Linked DNA regions of Homo sapiens: all the other regions are reported to be linked to region 3. The links are microRNA targets in miRTarBase. Many come from high-throughput screens and were not tested one by one. Region 3 holds a microRNA gene; each other region holds the end of a gene's coding sequence.
What was found. Region 3 holds the annotated microRNA hsa-miR-4717-3p (ACACAUGGGUGGCUGUGGCCU, at 3,652-3,672, opposite strand). A microRNA usually pairs through its seed, bases 2 to 8, with sites in the 3' UTR of a target mRNA and lowers its output. Matches are read on the target gene's strand: a 7mer-m8 pairs with bases 2 to 8, a 7mer-A1 pairs with bases 2 to 7 and ends in A, and an 8mer does both.

Region 1: miRTarBase lists PNMA8A as a target of hsa-miR-4717-3p. Seed matches in the 3' UTR shown: 7mer-m8 at 1,823-1,829.
Region 2: miRTarBase lists ZNF485 as a target of hsa-miR-4717-3p. Seed matches in the 3' UTR shown: 7mer-A1 at 4,118-4,124.

Annotation. Positions count from the first base shown.
Region 1 is chr19:46,464,187-46,469,186 of GRCh38, reverse strand. PNMA8A (PNMA family member 8A) reads left to right here. Exons shown (of 3, transcript NM_018215.4): 3 at 610-2,684. The coding sequence ends at 626. Among named protein-coding and RNA genes, the nearest start is that of PNMA8A, 4.9 kb to the left of the region's middle.
Region 2 is chr10:43,616,838-43,621,837 of GRCh38, reverse strand. ZNF485 (zinc finger protein 485) reads right to left here. Exons shown (of 5, transcript NM_145312.4): 5 at 3,934-5,000. The coding sequence ends at 4,469. Among named protein-coding and RNA genes, the nearest start is that of ZNF32-AS3, 9.5 kb to the left of the region's middle.
Region 3 is chr16:2,272,890-2,278,332 of GRCh38, reverse strand. MIR4717 (microRNA 4717) reads right to left here and starts at 3,713; the gene lies at 3,642-3,713. It overlaps ABCA3 (ATP binding cassette subfamily A member 3), which reads left to right. Exons shown (of 33, transcript NM_001089.3): 30 at 1-45; 31 at 264-454; 32 at 663-736; 33 at 1,528-2,452. The coding sequence ends at 1,659. It overlaps MIR3677HG (MIR3677 and MIR940 host gene), which reads right to left. Exons shown (of 3, transcript NR_132988.1): 3 at 5,261-5,346.

The DNA.
Region 1 (5,000 bases), not on the chromosome of region 3:
CAGTGAGCCTAGATTGTGCCACTGCCCTCCAGCCTGGGTGACGAGAGTGAGACTCTTGTCTCCAAAAAAAAAAAAAAGAATTTAATGATTTGGGAGGCCAAGGCAGACAGATCACCTGAGGTCAGGAGTTCGAGACCAGCCTGGCCAACATGGTGAAACCCCATCTCTACTAAAAATACAAAAATTAGCTGGGCATGGTGGTTTGTGCCTGTAATCCCAGCTACTGGGGAGGCCAAGGCCTGGGATTGGCCTCCAGACATCTGCCCACCAGATGTCTCCAGCATCGGCCTTCAGGGGCTCCTGGAAGGGCGGTCTGGGCTCTTACCCTCCCTGAACCTGGGAGGTGGAGGTTGCAGGGAGCCAAGATCACACTGCTGCACTCCAGCCTGGGCGATAGAGTGAAACCCTGTTCCCCCCTCCCCCCAAAAAAAATATTAATACTTTGGAGTTATGGTGTTTGCAGGGTATGTGGCTTTAAGGGTGAAGTTTTCTAGAGACCTGGCTGGGGAATAGAAATGTTCAGGGACCCAGAAATTTCTTGGAAGTAATGCATTTCCTAATGACACCTCTCTGCTTCCCTTCTTGATCTGTTCTCTCATTTATTTGCAGAATCCAGAAAGGTTTGATCTGGGGGACCACCCATACTGAGGAGTTGAAAGAACAAGGAAGAAGTACCAAGTCAACCAAGTTCTCTCTTGTCACTGAATAAGACTTTGGACTCTCTTAGGGCCCCTGTTGATAGAGATCTGGCCCTGAGGTAAACGATAGGTGAGGTCTTGGGTGGGAGGGAGTTGGGGAAGGGAGGTGGATCTCTATGCCCTTTTCTCTACCAGGCCTGCCGTTTCACCGCCTTCTCTACTCACCTTCTCTTCGGAGGCAGGAGAGTTGGTAAGAGGATTGGGAAAATTCTAGAACATTCATTCCCCTTTATGCATGAGCAGGGTCACTGTTACACTCATCCATGTTCAGCTTTTCTCCCCCACGCCTTGCTCCCTCCTCGGAATGGTCAGCGACCTCTGCAGGCCCTGGCATTTGGAAGAGCTGGGTGGCCCTGCCATATTCTTCCTCCCGCCTTCCTCTCGTGTAACCAGCGGGGTAAGTTAAGCCAGGACCTTCGCTGCAAACCTGGTTTTATTGCTCCTTCAGTCTCCAGCTTCCATCCTCCAGTTATCTAGCCAGGAGGTCCCAAGAGTTAGTTTTAGGGAAAAAGAATGTCTGCCTAGACCTCAAAGTCTTTGAGTTTTAGAGTCTGTTAGTAAAAATGGCACTTTGATTCCCATTTGGGATGAGCCCTCTCAGGAATCCTGTGGGGAAGGGGGGTGATTATAGGGAAGGACGCAGGCATTCCTAGGTCCCCAGCTCTAATTCCATCCATCTACCCAACTGTCACCATCTTTGCACCAAACTGTCACCATCTTTGCAGCAGAAGGTCACTACTCACATTATAGTAAGAGGGGAAAAAAATCTTTTAAAACTTGGCTGTTGGCCGGGCACGGTGGCTCACGCCTGTAATCCCAGCACTTTGGGAGGCTGAGGCAGGTCGATCACGAGGTCAGGCGTTTAAGACCAGCTTGACCAACATGGTGAAACCCCATCTCTACAAAAATTAGCTGGGCGTGGTGGCGCGCGCCTGTAATCCCAGCTACTCAGGAGGCTGAGGCAGATGAATTGCTTGAATCCAGGAGGCAGAGGTTGCAATGAGCCGAGATTGTGCCACGGCACTCCAGCCTGGGCAGCAGAGTGAGACTCTCTCTCAAAAAAACAAAACTTGGCTGTTAATGTCTGCCCTCTGAATTCAGACACACTATATTAGACCAGACCACCATGTGTCATTGTGTGTGTGTGTGTGTGTGTTTGCGTGCGCATGTGTAGAGGAGAGAGCAGGGTCCCTGAGATAATGGTTTCCAAACTGTATCGTAGCCGTCCACAAAGATGTAATCCAAATCTATTTTTCTCACGTGTTTAAAAAACTGAAAAGTGACTACTCAGATATGTTGGAAGTCACATCGAAGACTATCAGAATATTACCTTGTGTTCATAGGTTAACTTGTTTTTGTACACGTCTTAGTTATTTCAGGCATCTCTTTGCTTAAAATTGAGTTTCTTGTAAATGTGACTGATGAGCGAGGTTAGAAGTGGAAGAAATTCCTGTGCATGTTCTATAATCTGACACCCTGAAAGCAAGTTTCCTTTCGTCATTCACATGCTCTTGTTCTGCCGTGACTGTTCAGGTGTATGGTAGTAAGTAAATGTATTAACATGGTGAACAGTAGTAATATTCTATCATAGAGTATTAGCCCTTGCAAGTTTTCAGGGCGTCTTTTCCGACTTCAGTTTTTGTGATAAAGAATGTGAACAGTTGTTAGATGTTCTCAGTGATTCAACTTTAAAACAAATTTCTCGTGATGATTCATTTCAAAATCCTGAGTGAGTCTGACTGAAAAATACGAGAGAAAAGAGAGTGGTTTCCGTTTGCAGCTACACAGCTGTGTGCATCGACGTTCTCCTGGGGTGTGTGCCAAGCGAAACCCAGGGGTGAATTGGATTCTTGAAGAGACCAAAGCCTGTAACTGTCCAGCTTCTAATTTCAAAACGGGTCCATTAGGGCTTCGTTGTGTTAACAAGTTGACACCATGACTAGTAAATGTAAACGTGTATGTATAAAATAAAGTTTAGCAAATTAAGTGTCCTGTTAAGTCTCTTGTAGGTGAGGATTGCATGGACTATTAAATTTGAGGAAAGGGTTCCCCTTTCCTCAAACAGTGCCCCCAGCCAGATGTGACTGGTTATCAGATACGGGTTCAAGCTTTGAGAATTGTTAATGATCCATGAGAGAAGAAGCCGTTTGTCCTCTTTGCGAATGGCTTTCCACTGATGTGGAAGGATGTCCCACAGATCTTGGGGTTTCTAGAATAGGTATCTGGTGACGCAAATTACCTCAAAGTACCAGTTTATTTTTTTATAAACAGCTGGAAAATGAAAACCTTTCCCTCCCTTCCTATTCCCTCACACAGAAGCCAAGGTCTTTTTTTTTTTTTTTTTTTGAGATGGAGTTTCGCTCTGTCACCCAGGTGGGAGTGCAGTGGCACAGTCTCAGCCCACTGCAGCCTCTACCTCCTGGGCTCAAGTGATCTGCCCACCTCGGCCTCCCAAAGCGTTGGGATTACAGGTGTAAGCCACCATGCCAAGCCAGAAGCTGAGGTCTTTTAGCTAAAAATATAGTTTTCTTCTGGCCCTCCCCTGCCCCTCCCCAGGAACTCCTGAACCAGGGTGGCCACTACATCAGTCACTTGGAATCTGTTCAAGGTACCATTTCGTGGCTCTACCTGCTGATTCAGGATCTCTTCGGGGTTGTACATAGTTATCTGCGTCTTAAACAGTTTCTCCTGAGAATTTTTTTTTTTTTTTTTTGAGACGGAGTCTCGCTCTGTCTCCTAGGCTGGAGTGCAGTATCATGATCTCAGCTCACTGCAACCTCTGCCTCCCGGGTTCAAGCGATTCTCCTGCCTCAGCCTCCCAAGTAGCTGGGACTACAGGGGTGCGCCACCACGCCCAGCTAATATTTTTGTATTTTTTTTAGTAGAGATGGAGTTTCACCATGTTGGCCAGGATGGCCTCGATCTCTGATCTCTTGACCTCGTGATCCGCCCACCTCAGCCTCCCAAAGTGCTGGGATGACAGGCGTGAGCCACCACGCCCAGCCAAGAATTCTATTAATAATACAGGTTGGAGAGCTTCAGGTGGAATAATTCAGACTTGGGGAAACGGAAGTGTCCTTAGGGGTCCAGGTTGAGGTTTTGTGAAAGTGAATGGAGATTATGAGGAAAGATGCGAAAGAGACCAAAAGGGAAGCTGGGATTTGAGGACGCGGAGCTCGTTAGGAACTGCCGTGTACTCATAGAAGCATCTGGATGAAGCTCTATTTATTGGGTGCCCCCACACCCCCACAATGGGAAAAGCCCTATTTGACCAAGATGTTTAAGTACCTCCCACAATAATAGTCACTCCTACTGGTTACACCCAGGCTGTCAGTAAAGTATGAAAGGCCTACGTGCCCTAAAAATGGGGGGAATCCAAGGTTGGGGCACATGAAAGCTCTCTTCAAAGAAACCTCATCGCCCCGGGTGGAGGTGTTCTGTTCAGGGGTGCGTCTGGGGAGGCGCTGGCCCGGAGTGTTTGCAGGAAGATGGAGAGCTGTGGATGCCACCAGCAGGGCTCGAGGGCAAAGTGTCCTGGTTGCCCATGCTGCCATTCAAGCAAGGTTCGTTGAGAATCTGCTGTACGACAGCCAGGAGCAAGACAGAGTCCTGGCTTCCTGGAGCCTGACGTTTGAGTGAGGACAGACCTTATATAGACACAGGTGGAGGGGTGGGGAGCTCTGCCGTGAAAAATATAACAGGAAGATAGGCAGGCAAGGTGAGTGTGCAGAAACGGCTGGCTGTCGCTTACAATGGTTGGGGGAGCCTCTCTGGGAACTGGATGTCTGAACAGACCTGAAGGGGGTGAGGGGTGAGACAAGCAGTTGGCCAAGAACGGCCTCCTGGGCAGAGGGAACAGTCATCGTGGAGGGAGGCTCTAATCTGTTTCAGAAAGTGAGTAAGGCTGGGCGCAGTGGCTCACACCTGTAATCCCAGCACTTTGGGAGGCCAAGGCGGGCAGATCACCTGAGGTCAGGAGTTCAAGACCAGCCTGGCCAACATGGTGAAACCCCATCTCTACTAAAAATACAAAAAAATTAGCCAGGTGTGATGGCGCGTGCCTGTGGTCCCAGCTACTTGGGAGGCTGAGGCAGGAGAATTGCTTGAACCCAGGAGGTTGAGACTGCAGTGAGCTGAGATCGCACCACTGCACTCCAGCCTGGGCGACAGAGCAAGACTCTGTCTCAAAAAAATAAAAATAAAAAAGCAAGGAGGAGGTGAGGAGCAAGAGGGCAGGGGGCTTTGGAGGCTGGTGTGCAAAGCCCCACAGGTGCGGCCAGGATGGATTCCAGCTTTAATCTG
Region 2 (5,000 bases), not on the chromosome of region 3:
GATTGATTTCCAAACACTGAACCAGCCGTAACCCCATTTGATCATGATTCTATATTATTAATTCTATATATTGCTGGATTTTATTCGCTAATATTCTATTCAAGATTTTTGCTTCTATGCTCATAAGGAATATTGGTCAGCTTTCTTTTATTGTCCTGTCTTGTCCCATTTTGAATAAACACCCTATTCTTTTAAATGAAAACTTCTTAAATGAAATACATTACCAAAAATCCCATAATTATCATTACCATTTTGAAATATTTTATTCGTTTTCATATGTTAAAGTAGGTTTCCTCAATAAGACAAGCCAGTACCCAGGCTTTGTTCATGGTGTTTGACAGTGGGTAAAACCACTGGTCCCTCTTGAGCCTTGTGCACACGATATAGATGATGGTGGAGCATGTTCTTTTGAGATCTTTAATCAATTCTGTAAGAGACCTCTCATATATATATATGAGAGAAATTTTTTTATTTTATATTTTTATGCAGAAATTTTAATTTTATATTTTAAAAAAATATATAGGTGAAATATATGTATATACATGTGTACATATATATGTGTGCATGTACATATATACATACTATACATTTTTAAAAAAAAACAGAAATGAGTATCACTAACACAGCACCAGCTAACATTTACCTTGCACTTTGCATCTGGTATTCAGCTAAGCACTTTATAAAATTACCTCCTTTAAACAAAACTAGTTTTTTTTTTATCTGTACATGGTAGACAATTCAACAGGCTACATAACTAGCCAGTGGTTTCACAAAGTATATTAAGAGGTAAGCTGCATCTTGCACCCTGACTCCAAAGATTATACTTCAAAGTTGCTGCCATAAGCTTTCAGATACTGTCCTGTAACCTATTTCTTCATCCAACATATCCACTTTATCCTTTTTAATGGTTGTATCATATTCCATGATAGATCATATTTTCCAAAATTATTGCAATAATATATTCCATCGAATATACTTTTCTGGCAATGTGACTCTGATACTCCTCCAAAGAAGTATGTTCTATGTTCCCTCCCCTTTGAGTTTGGACAGGCTTGACTATGGAGAAAGAGACACTGAATTTTTTGTTGTCGTTATTGTTTGTTTGTTTGAGACAAGGTCTCACTCCAGTTGCCCAGACTGGAGTGCAGTGGTGCAATCTTGGTTCACTGTAACCTCTGCCTCCCAGGCTCAAGCAGTCATCCCACCTCAGCCTCCCCAGCACTACAGGCACGTGCCACAGACCTGGCTAATTTTTTTGTATTTTTTTGTAGAGACAGGGCTTCACCAAGTTGCCAAGACTGGTCTTGAACTCCTGGCCCCAAGCAATCCACCCACCTCAGCCTCTAAAAGTGCTGGGATTACAGGTATGAGCCACCACGCCCAGCCGAGATGCTGTTATTTCTGATGCTAGATCACAACAAGCAATAACAGTTTCTCTGCCTGACTCCTCAGAACCCAGGCACCAAGCTGAGGAGGCCTATGCAGCCACATAAAAAGGTCACATGTAGGTGTTCATATGCAACTGCCCTAGCTGAGGTCCCAGCCAACAGCATCAACCACCCAATTTGTGATGGAGCCTTCAGTTGTGTTGTCTGATAGCAACATGCGAACCATACATGTAGGCCACATATGTAAATTTAAATTTTCTAGTAGTCACATTAAAATTCAATTTTAATACATTGAGTTTAATCTATCTAAAATATAATCAATATAAAAACCATTAAGATAGTTTAGTTTCTTTTTTTATACAAAGTCTTCGAAATCTGATGCACATTTTATACTTACAGTCCTATTTTCAATCAACACACTAGTCTCCATTCAGACTGGCCTCACTTCAACTGCTCAGTAGCCACTTGTGGCTATCATAGTGTGGCCGCTTCAAATGACCCCACTGACCAACTGTTGATTCCAACCTTGAGTTTTCCCAACTGAAACCCCAGACATCATGGAGTTACAAAGCTGTTCCTGCTGTGCCCTTTCTGAATCCTTGACTCACAAAATCTGTGAACACAAATACTGGCAACTAAGTGTGTGACGGTTTATTATACATCTGTAGTAACTGGGATGCTAGCCTATGAGAGTTTCATAACTTATTTAAACATTTCCCTACTTAGATATTTCTCCCACCTCTTTCCAGGATATTAGTATAACCAATGACGATGAGCAATACAAGCTCTGTAAGTTAGTCAAATTATTTCCTTAAATGTTTGAGGGTGGCATTTCTGGGTCAATTAGAACATACATTTACATTTACATTCATGTTGCCAAACTGTTATCCAAAGCAGCTTAACCAGTTCTTACCAACAATCATCTATGTGTGTGCAGCCGTGCTTCTTTTGATTAAATCTGGCCCTCTGCAATCATCAGTTGAATACTTAGATCCTTTCTTTTCTATTTTATAACATTCCTAAGTTTGCTTTATTGCTTTTACATTGTGAACTATATCCATGATATATTTTTATCACAAAATATTCAGGCAATGCATTGACTATACAAAAGAAGTACTATACCATTATTCTTTACTTTGGATCTTTTTCAACTTAATGTCATAGACAACTTTGCCTGTCAGCTCATAAAAGTCTAACTCACCAAATGTTAATTAATTAAAGGACTGTCTTTTAATTAAATGTTGAGTGACTACATGGTAGTCCAAAGACTGCATGTATCTTCAACATTCCTCTGATGACAGATATTACAGTGATTCCACCTCTTCATTACTACAATGCTGTAAAGACCACCTTTACTTTTTAATTAGATTTTAAGTAGAAATGTTAGGTCAAAAGGTCAAAGTTGGTAGGCATAATCATTTATATTTCTTTTTCTGACAACTGTACATTCACATCCAAGACCATTTCTCCACTGGAATTTTTATATTTATGTATTTTAAGGACTCTCTAAATAGTCTAAGTGTTACCTGTTAAATATGATGATGGTAATATTTTCTCCAAGTCCAGCCCTTTGTATTTTAATACTACGAAGCCTCTAGTTGCAGAAACTAAAAGCTTTTAGTTTCTGTGTGGCATTTGTCTTATTTTTATGACTTCTGAGTTTTCTTATATAGGAAGATAACTATACTAAGTTACAGAAGATACATGAATGATGCTTGATTAAATATTTCATTTCAAAGAACTCAGTCAAAGTCATAATTTCACTTCATCATACCAATATAGGTCGAGTATCCCTTGTCTGAAATGCGTGAGACCAGAAGTATTTAGGATTTCAGACTTTTTTGGACTTTGCAATATTTGCATGCAAATAATAAGGAATCTTGGGGGTGCATTTTTTTTTTTTTTTTTTTTTTTGAGACGGAGTCTCGCTCTGTCGCCCAGGCCGGACTGCGGACTGCAGTGGTGCAATCTCGGCTCACTGCAAGCTCCGCTTCCCAGGTTCACGCCATTCTCCTGCCTCAGCCTCCTGAGTAGCTGGGACTACAGGCGCCCGCCACCGCGCCCGGCTAATTTTTTGTATTTTTAGTAGAGACGGGGTTTCACCTTGTTAGCCAGGATGGTCTCGATCTCCTGACCTCATGATCCACCCGCCTCGGCCTCCCAAAGTGCTGGGATTACAGGCGTGAGCCACCGCGCCCGGCCGGGGGTGCATTTTAACTGCAACCCATCACATAAGGTCTGGTGTAGAATTTTGTACCTGTTGGTGCTCAGACAAATTTTGGATTTTGGAGCACTTCAGATTTCAGATTTTCCAGTTATGGATGCTCAACCTATACTACATCCTCATCAAAGATAACTGCTGTTAGCTGAGTGTGGTGGTACGTGCCTGTAGCCCCAGCTACTCCAGAGACTGAAGTGGGAAGGTTGTTCAAGCCCAAGTTCAAAACTACAGTGAGCTATGATCACATGGCACTCCAGCCTGGGTGACAGAGTAAGAGCTAGTTTCTTTTAAAAAAAAAAAAAAAGAGAGAGAGAGAGAGATAACTGCTGTTAAGATTGGTCTTTATTTGTCCAGGTCTTTTTGAATGCATATAATATAGATTTCCTGAAACTTGCTTCTTTAACAAGGGTATATTGGGTATATTATCATGGGTATATTTCTACTGTTGTATTTTTTTACTTAGAGATGGAGTCTTGCTATGTTGCCCAGGCTGGAGTGCAGTGGCTATTCACATGCACAATCATAGTGCATTACAGACTCAAACTCCTGGGCTTAAGCAATCCTGTCTCAGCCTCCCAAGTAACTGGGACTACAGGCATATGCCACCATGCCTGGCTTTGTACAGTATTTACAGCTCCACCTCATTCTTTTCAATTAGCACACAGTATGCTATAACTACTTCCATACTGACATACATTTAGTTTCTTCAAATATTTCACTAGTAGAACCTCACAATGAATATCCTCACAAGTGATGTGTTCTCTCAGAAGTACAGAGTATTTCTGTTAAATGCATAATTTATTTAATGTCTCCTCTATGATGGTCAGAAGGAATAAACTACTCTGCACAATTTGCCACACTAACTACATTTCATGGCTCTTTCTTTATTATGAATTTTCTTATGTTGCTTAAGGGCTGAACTTCGGGGAAAAGCTTTCCCACATTCATTACATTTATAAGGTTTTTCCCCAGTATGGAGTCTCTGATGTTCAACAAGGCCTGAGCTGTGCCGAAAGGCTTTCCCACATTTCTTACAGTGATAGGGTTTTTCTCCAGTATGAATTCTCTGATGTCCAGTAAGGGTTGAGCTCTTTGTAAAGGCCTTCCCACAGTCACGACACTGATACGGTTTATTTCCACTGTGAGTTTTCTGATGACCAGCAAAGGATGAGCTATACCTGAAAGATTTTCCACATTTACTGCAGTGATAGGGTTTCTCCCCAGTATGCATTCTTTGGTGACTAATAAGAGTTGAGCTCTTCCTAAAGGCTTTTCCACATTCATTACACTGATATGGCTTCTCACCAGTATGGATTTTCTGATGTTCCAACACAGTTGAATTATCCCTGAAAGCTCTCCCACACTTGTTACATTTAAAAGGCTTCTCTCCA
Region 3 (5,443 bases):
ACGAGCCCGAGAGTCTGGCAAGGCCATCATCATCACCTCCCACAGGTAGAGCCTGGGTCTGTGGGTTACTGGAAGTTTCAGCACCGGGTGGGCCATGGAGGAGCCAGGTGGCCAGGAGACCCATCAGCATCTGGTGCAGAGTCTGCCCGTGAGCCACACTGAGCATGGGTATCAGGAACAGCCTGATCGGAGAGCCAATGCCTTCCTGTCTGCACAAGCCTTTGGCACCCCAAGCCCTATCTGAGGTCCCGCCCTCTCCACAGCATGGAGGAGTGTGAGGCCCTGTGCACCCGGCTGGCCATCATGGTGCAGGGGCAGTTCAAGTGCCTGGGCAGCCCCCAGCACCTCAAGAGCAAGTTCGGCAGCGGCTACTCCCTGCGGGCCAAGGTGCAGAGTGAAGGGCAACAGGAGGCGCTGGAGGAGTTCAAGGCCTTCGTGGACCTGACCTTTCCAGGTGTGTGCCGGCCCCGGCAGCCCCCACTGGGTGGGCCCTGGGCCCCTACCTAGGCCTCTCCCATCTGCTGTGCGGAGCGTCTGTGCCTCGCCCCGCCAAGTCCCATCTCCCCAATCCCTGGGACGAGGACTCCAGTGCTGAGCACCCAGGCACCCTCCCCGATCCTCCAGCCCGGCGCTCACAGCAACACCGTCTCTCCTTTGTGCAGGCAGCGTCCTGGAAGATGAGCACCAAGGCATGGTCCATTACCACCTGCCGGGCCGTGACCTCAGCTGGGCGAAGGTGAGGCAGTCCCTGGGGCCCCACTGGGCACTCATGGGGCAGGGGGAGGTCCCTCCAGGGGTCTCTCCCTCTGTGGTGACTGCAGGCTCTTTCCACAGAGGAGTCACTTTCCATTTCTCCCCTAACACTCAGCCTGATACGTGCTGGTTTGGGGGTTTTATATCCAAAATTATCAGTGGTAAAAGGAATTCAGTGTAAAACAGGAAAGGGGTCAGGGATGGTGGCTCACACCATAATCCCAGCACTTTGGGAGGCCGAGGAGGGAGGATTGCTTAAGCCTGGGAGTTCTAGACCAGCCTGGGCAACATAGACCCCGTCTCTACAAAAAATTTAAAAATTAGCCAGGTATCATGCATACCTGTAGTCCCAGCCACTCGGGAGGCTAAGGTGGGAGGATCGCTTGAGCCTGGGAGTTCGAGACTGCAGTGAGCTATGATTGTGCCACTGCACTCCAGCCTGGGCTACAGAGCAAGACTCTCTCTAAAAAAATATGGGGGAAAAAAAGAACTGGCTCAGAAAGGGAACATCACTGGCTCAAGGTTGTAATCTGAGCTGGGAACAGCACAGGGAGGAGGCTGGGCCCCATCCCCGCTGGCTCCTGCTTAGCCAGCGTCCTCTACCTGGGAGCACGGTGCCGTCGCAGGGCTGACCTCTCTGGGGCTCTGGGGTGGCGCTGGGCAGGGGTAGGATTGTGGGGGCCTCATCAGCCCCTATTGCCAGAGGACTCCCAGGTCCCGCAGAGGAGCCTGGGCCCTGTTCTCTCCTACCAGTGACTTTTCTGCTCCCCAAAGGTTTTCGGTATTCTGGAGAAAGCCAAGGAAAAGTACGGCGTGGACGACTACTCCGTGAGCCAGATCTCGCTGGAACAGGTCTTCCTGAGCTTCGCCCACCTGCAGCCGCCCACCGCAGAGGAGGGGCGATGAGGGGTGGCGGCTGTCTCGCCATCAGGCAGGGACAGGACGGGCAAGCAGGGCCCATCTTACATCCTCTCTCTCCAAGTTTATCTCATCCTTTATTTTTAATCACTTTTTTCTATGATGGATATGAAAAATTCAAGGCAGTATGCACAGAATGGACGAGTGCAGCCCAGCCCTCATGCCCAGGATCAGCATGCGCATCTCCATGTCTGCATACTCTGGAGTTCACTTTCCCAGAGCTGGGGCAGGCCGGGCAGTCTGCGGGCAAGCTCCGGGGTCTCTGGGTGGAGAGCTGACCCAGGAAGGGCTGCAGCTGAGCTGGGGGTTGAATTTCTCCAGGCACTCCCTGGAGAGAGGACCCAGTGACTTGTCCAAGTTTACACACGACACTAATCTCCCCTGGGGAGGAAGCGGGAAGCCAGCCAGGTTGAACTGTAGCGAGGCCCCCAGGCCGCCAGGAATGGACCATGCAGATCACTGTCAGTGGAGGGAAGCTGCTGACTGTGATTAGGTGCTGGGGTCTTAGCGTCCAGCGCAGCCCGGGGGCATCCTGGAGGCTCTGCTCCTTAGGGCATGGTAGTCACCGCGAAGCCGGGCACCGTCCCACAGCATCTCCTAGAAGCAGCCGGCACAGGAGGGAAGGTGGCCAGGCTCGAAGCAGTCTCTGTTTCCAGCACTGCACCCTCAGGAAGTCGCCCGCCCCAGGACACGCAGGGACCACCCTAAGGGCTGGGTGGCTGTCTCAAGGACACATTGAATACGTTGTGACCATCCAGAAAATAAATGCTGAGGGGACACAGTCACAGTCTGTGGGTCACACGCGCGAGCGGTCACAGGGCTCAATCACTCGCCCACAATCTAGACATGAGGCTCTCCTTTCACATTTCAATCACACAAACGTGGGACGTTGCTTTTCCCAGAAGGGAGCACACGCAGAGAATACACTGAGGTGAAGGAACAGGCCCATAACACAAAGGAAAAAGCCGGCTAGATCAACGCCCGGTGACAGGCTCTTAGTCTAAAGACAAGAGCAGGTGGGGCTGTGTGGGAAGCACAGGTCTGGTGGGAGAGAAGCTGCTGGCATCAGGGTCACCCGTGGGCATTTGCCATTTCCCAGAAATAACTCCTCATCAGCTCCCTTTTTAGTTATTTATGGAGTCTTGCTTTGTTGCCCAGGCTGGAGTGCAGTGGCGCAATCTTGGCTCACTGCAACTTCTGCCTCCCGGGTTCAAGCCATTCTCCTGCCTCTGCCTCCCGAGTAGCTGGGACAACAGGCACGCGCCACCACACCCAGCTAATTTTTGTGTTTTTAGTAGAGACGGGGTTTCACCATCTTGGTCAGCCTGGTCTCGAACTCCTGACCTGAAGTGATCCACCCACCTCAGACTCCCAAAGTACTGGGATTACAGCCATAAGCCACCGTGCCTGGCCCCTTTTTATGCACTGTTTTGTGTTTTGTCTTTTGGAGACAGGATCTTGCTCTGCTGCCCAGCGTGGAGTGCAGTGGTGGTATCACAGCTCACTGCAGCCTCAAACACCTGGGCTCATGCAATCCTCCCACCCCAGCCTCCGGAGTGGCTGGGACTAAGGGCATGCGCCACCATGCATGGCTAAATTTTATTTTTAGTATAGACGAGGTCTCATGTTGGCCAGGCTGCTGCCAAACCCCTGACCTCAAGTGATCCACCTGCCTTGGCCTCCCAAAGTGCTGGGATCACAGGCGTGAGCCACCATGCCCGGCGAATGCACTATTATTTCTTATGGTTTTCTAAACCCGATTTGAACTTCTGCATTTTACATTCCCTTAGAATTCAGAGTTTTAGAAAAGACTTGTTTTCATCACTTTGGCTCATTTGGGACAATTTCAAGTCTGTGTTTTTATCAGTCTCTGGAAATTTATGAAAGCTGCAAATCGTCTCCAGTAGCTCTTTTATTCCCTTTAAACTTCTGCCATCTAGTTCCATGTTATAAAAAATATAACGTGTTTGGGCAGTGTTTAGGCCACAGCCACCCATGTGTAGCCACCCCTACACATGGGTGGCTGTGGCCTAAACACTGCCCACGAGAAAAGTTCTGAAGTGGGCCCTTCTGGCCCCACAGCCTGTCCGCAGGGGCTGTGGCCTCTAGGTCGGGCCTGGGGCTAGGAAGAGGGAAAGGTCAGTGCACGAGGCCACCCAGCTCCATGTCCATGCCCATGGCCCTTCTGCAGGGCATCCTCAGACTTGTTTTCAAGCCCATGTGTTAGAGATTTAGGAATGTGTCATTTTTCTCCTGTGACACCCTAAAAGAGGGTTGGGGAGAGCGTATAGGACTGAGGGCACAGCCCGCATGAGGCACACACGTGTGAGGCCAGCGTACACAGGACACGCACAGGAGATACCATCCTTCCCGGTAGCACGCTGCCAGCACCAGCAGGGGTCTTTAAGTAAGGACTGGCACAAGTAGAATGCCTTCTTAGGAAAATGATCCGCAGCTCAGGAGGCTGCTGCGTGGGGACCGGGAGGGGCAGGTGCATTCAGGGCGTCTGTGGCAGGGGCCCAGGGCTGCACCCAAGCCTGGAGCTTAGATGACCCCAGGAGCAGCAGGAAGGGCCCATCTGGCATCCCAGGGAAATCCTCAAGGCCTCTGGAAACTCAGTGCTGGAGCTGGGTCACCAGGGGTGCCCTAAGGAGCCTGGGACTGAAGCCTCAGGACCCTGCCCTGGCCGATTTTTGTCTGAGCTGTGGCAGTTCCCAGCCCACGGGAGGGCAGGGGAAAAGAGCCTTGGGCCCAGGGATAGGAGTGACCGGCCTATCCACGCTCCACCCTAGACCACGGAGGGGGGCCACACATTCTCTACGGACACTGTCCCCAAACAACTGTGGCATCTGACAGAGCCAACTCCTGCCCTGCTCCCAGTTCACCTTAGACCTGGGAAACGAGGTTTTGACTTCACTGCTCTGCATGGCCTGGTGCAGGGCTCCCGTGAGCAGACGGCCCATGGGCCACGAGCCAGGTATGTGGAAGAGCCTGTGCCTTCTGTCCTCCAGGCCGGCCCAGTCCAACGGCGTGGCTCAACTGAAACCACACCCAGAACTCGGAGAGGGGAAGACCTCGCGGTGGGGCGGGCCCAGGCCAAGCCCCTCCACTGCCATCACAGGTTTACAGCGGAGCAGAGGGGCAGGCCGGATACAGGCAGCCCAGGCCACAGGTCAGGGGACCCACACCAGGCCACAGGAACAGGCTTGCTGAGGGTATCAGAAAACCCCAGGTCACAGTGGTTTGAAAAAGAAGTTTATTTCTCAGCCATGTAGGCAGGAGGAGGCAGTCCAGCACTCGGTCACCTGAGGTCTCAGGGAGGCAGGCTCCATCTGCTGCCCCGTCATCCTGGTTCACGCCTCCCTCCTCATGGTCACCTCTGTGTTCAAGGAAGTGCTTGGCCGGGCATGGTGGCTCACGCCTGTAATCCCAGCACTTTGGGAGGCCGAGGCAGGCGGATCATGAAGTCGAAAAATCAAGACCATCCTGGCTAACACGGTGAAACCCCGTCTCTACTAAAAATACAAAAAAATTAGCCGGGTGTGGTGGCGGGCACCTGTAGTCCCAGCTACTCAGGAGGCTGAGGCAAGAGAATGGCGTGAACCGGGGAGGCGGAGCTTGCAGTGAGCCGAGATCACGCCATTGCACTCCATCTGGACTACAGTGAGACTCCATCTAAAAAAAAAAAAAAAAAGGAAGTGCTCAAGTTCAGGCCGGGGTAGGGTGTGTGCAGTGGCCTCCGTCAAGTGTGTGTCACCCCCAGGCAGCTCCC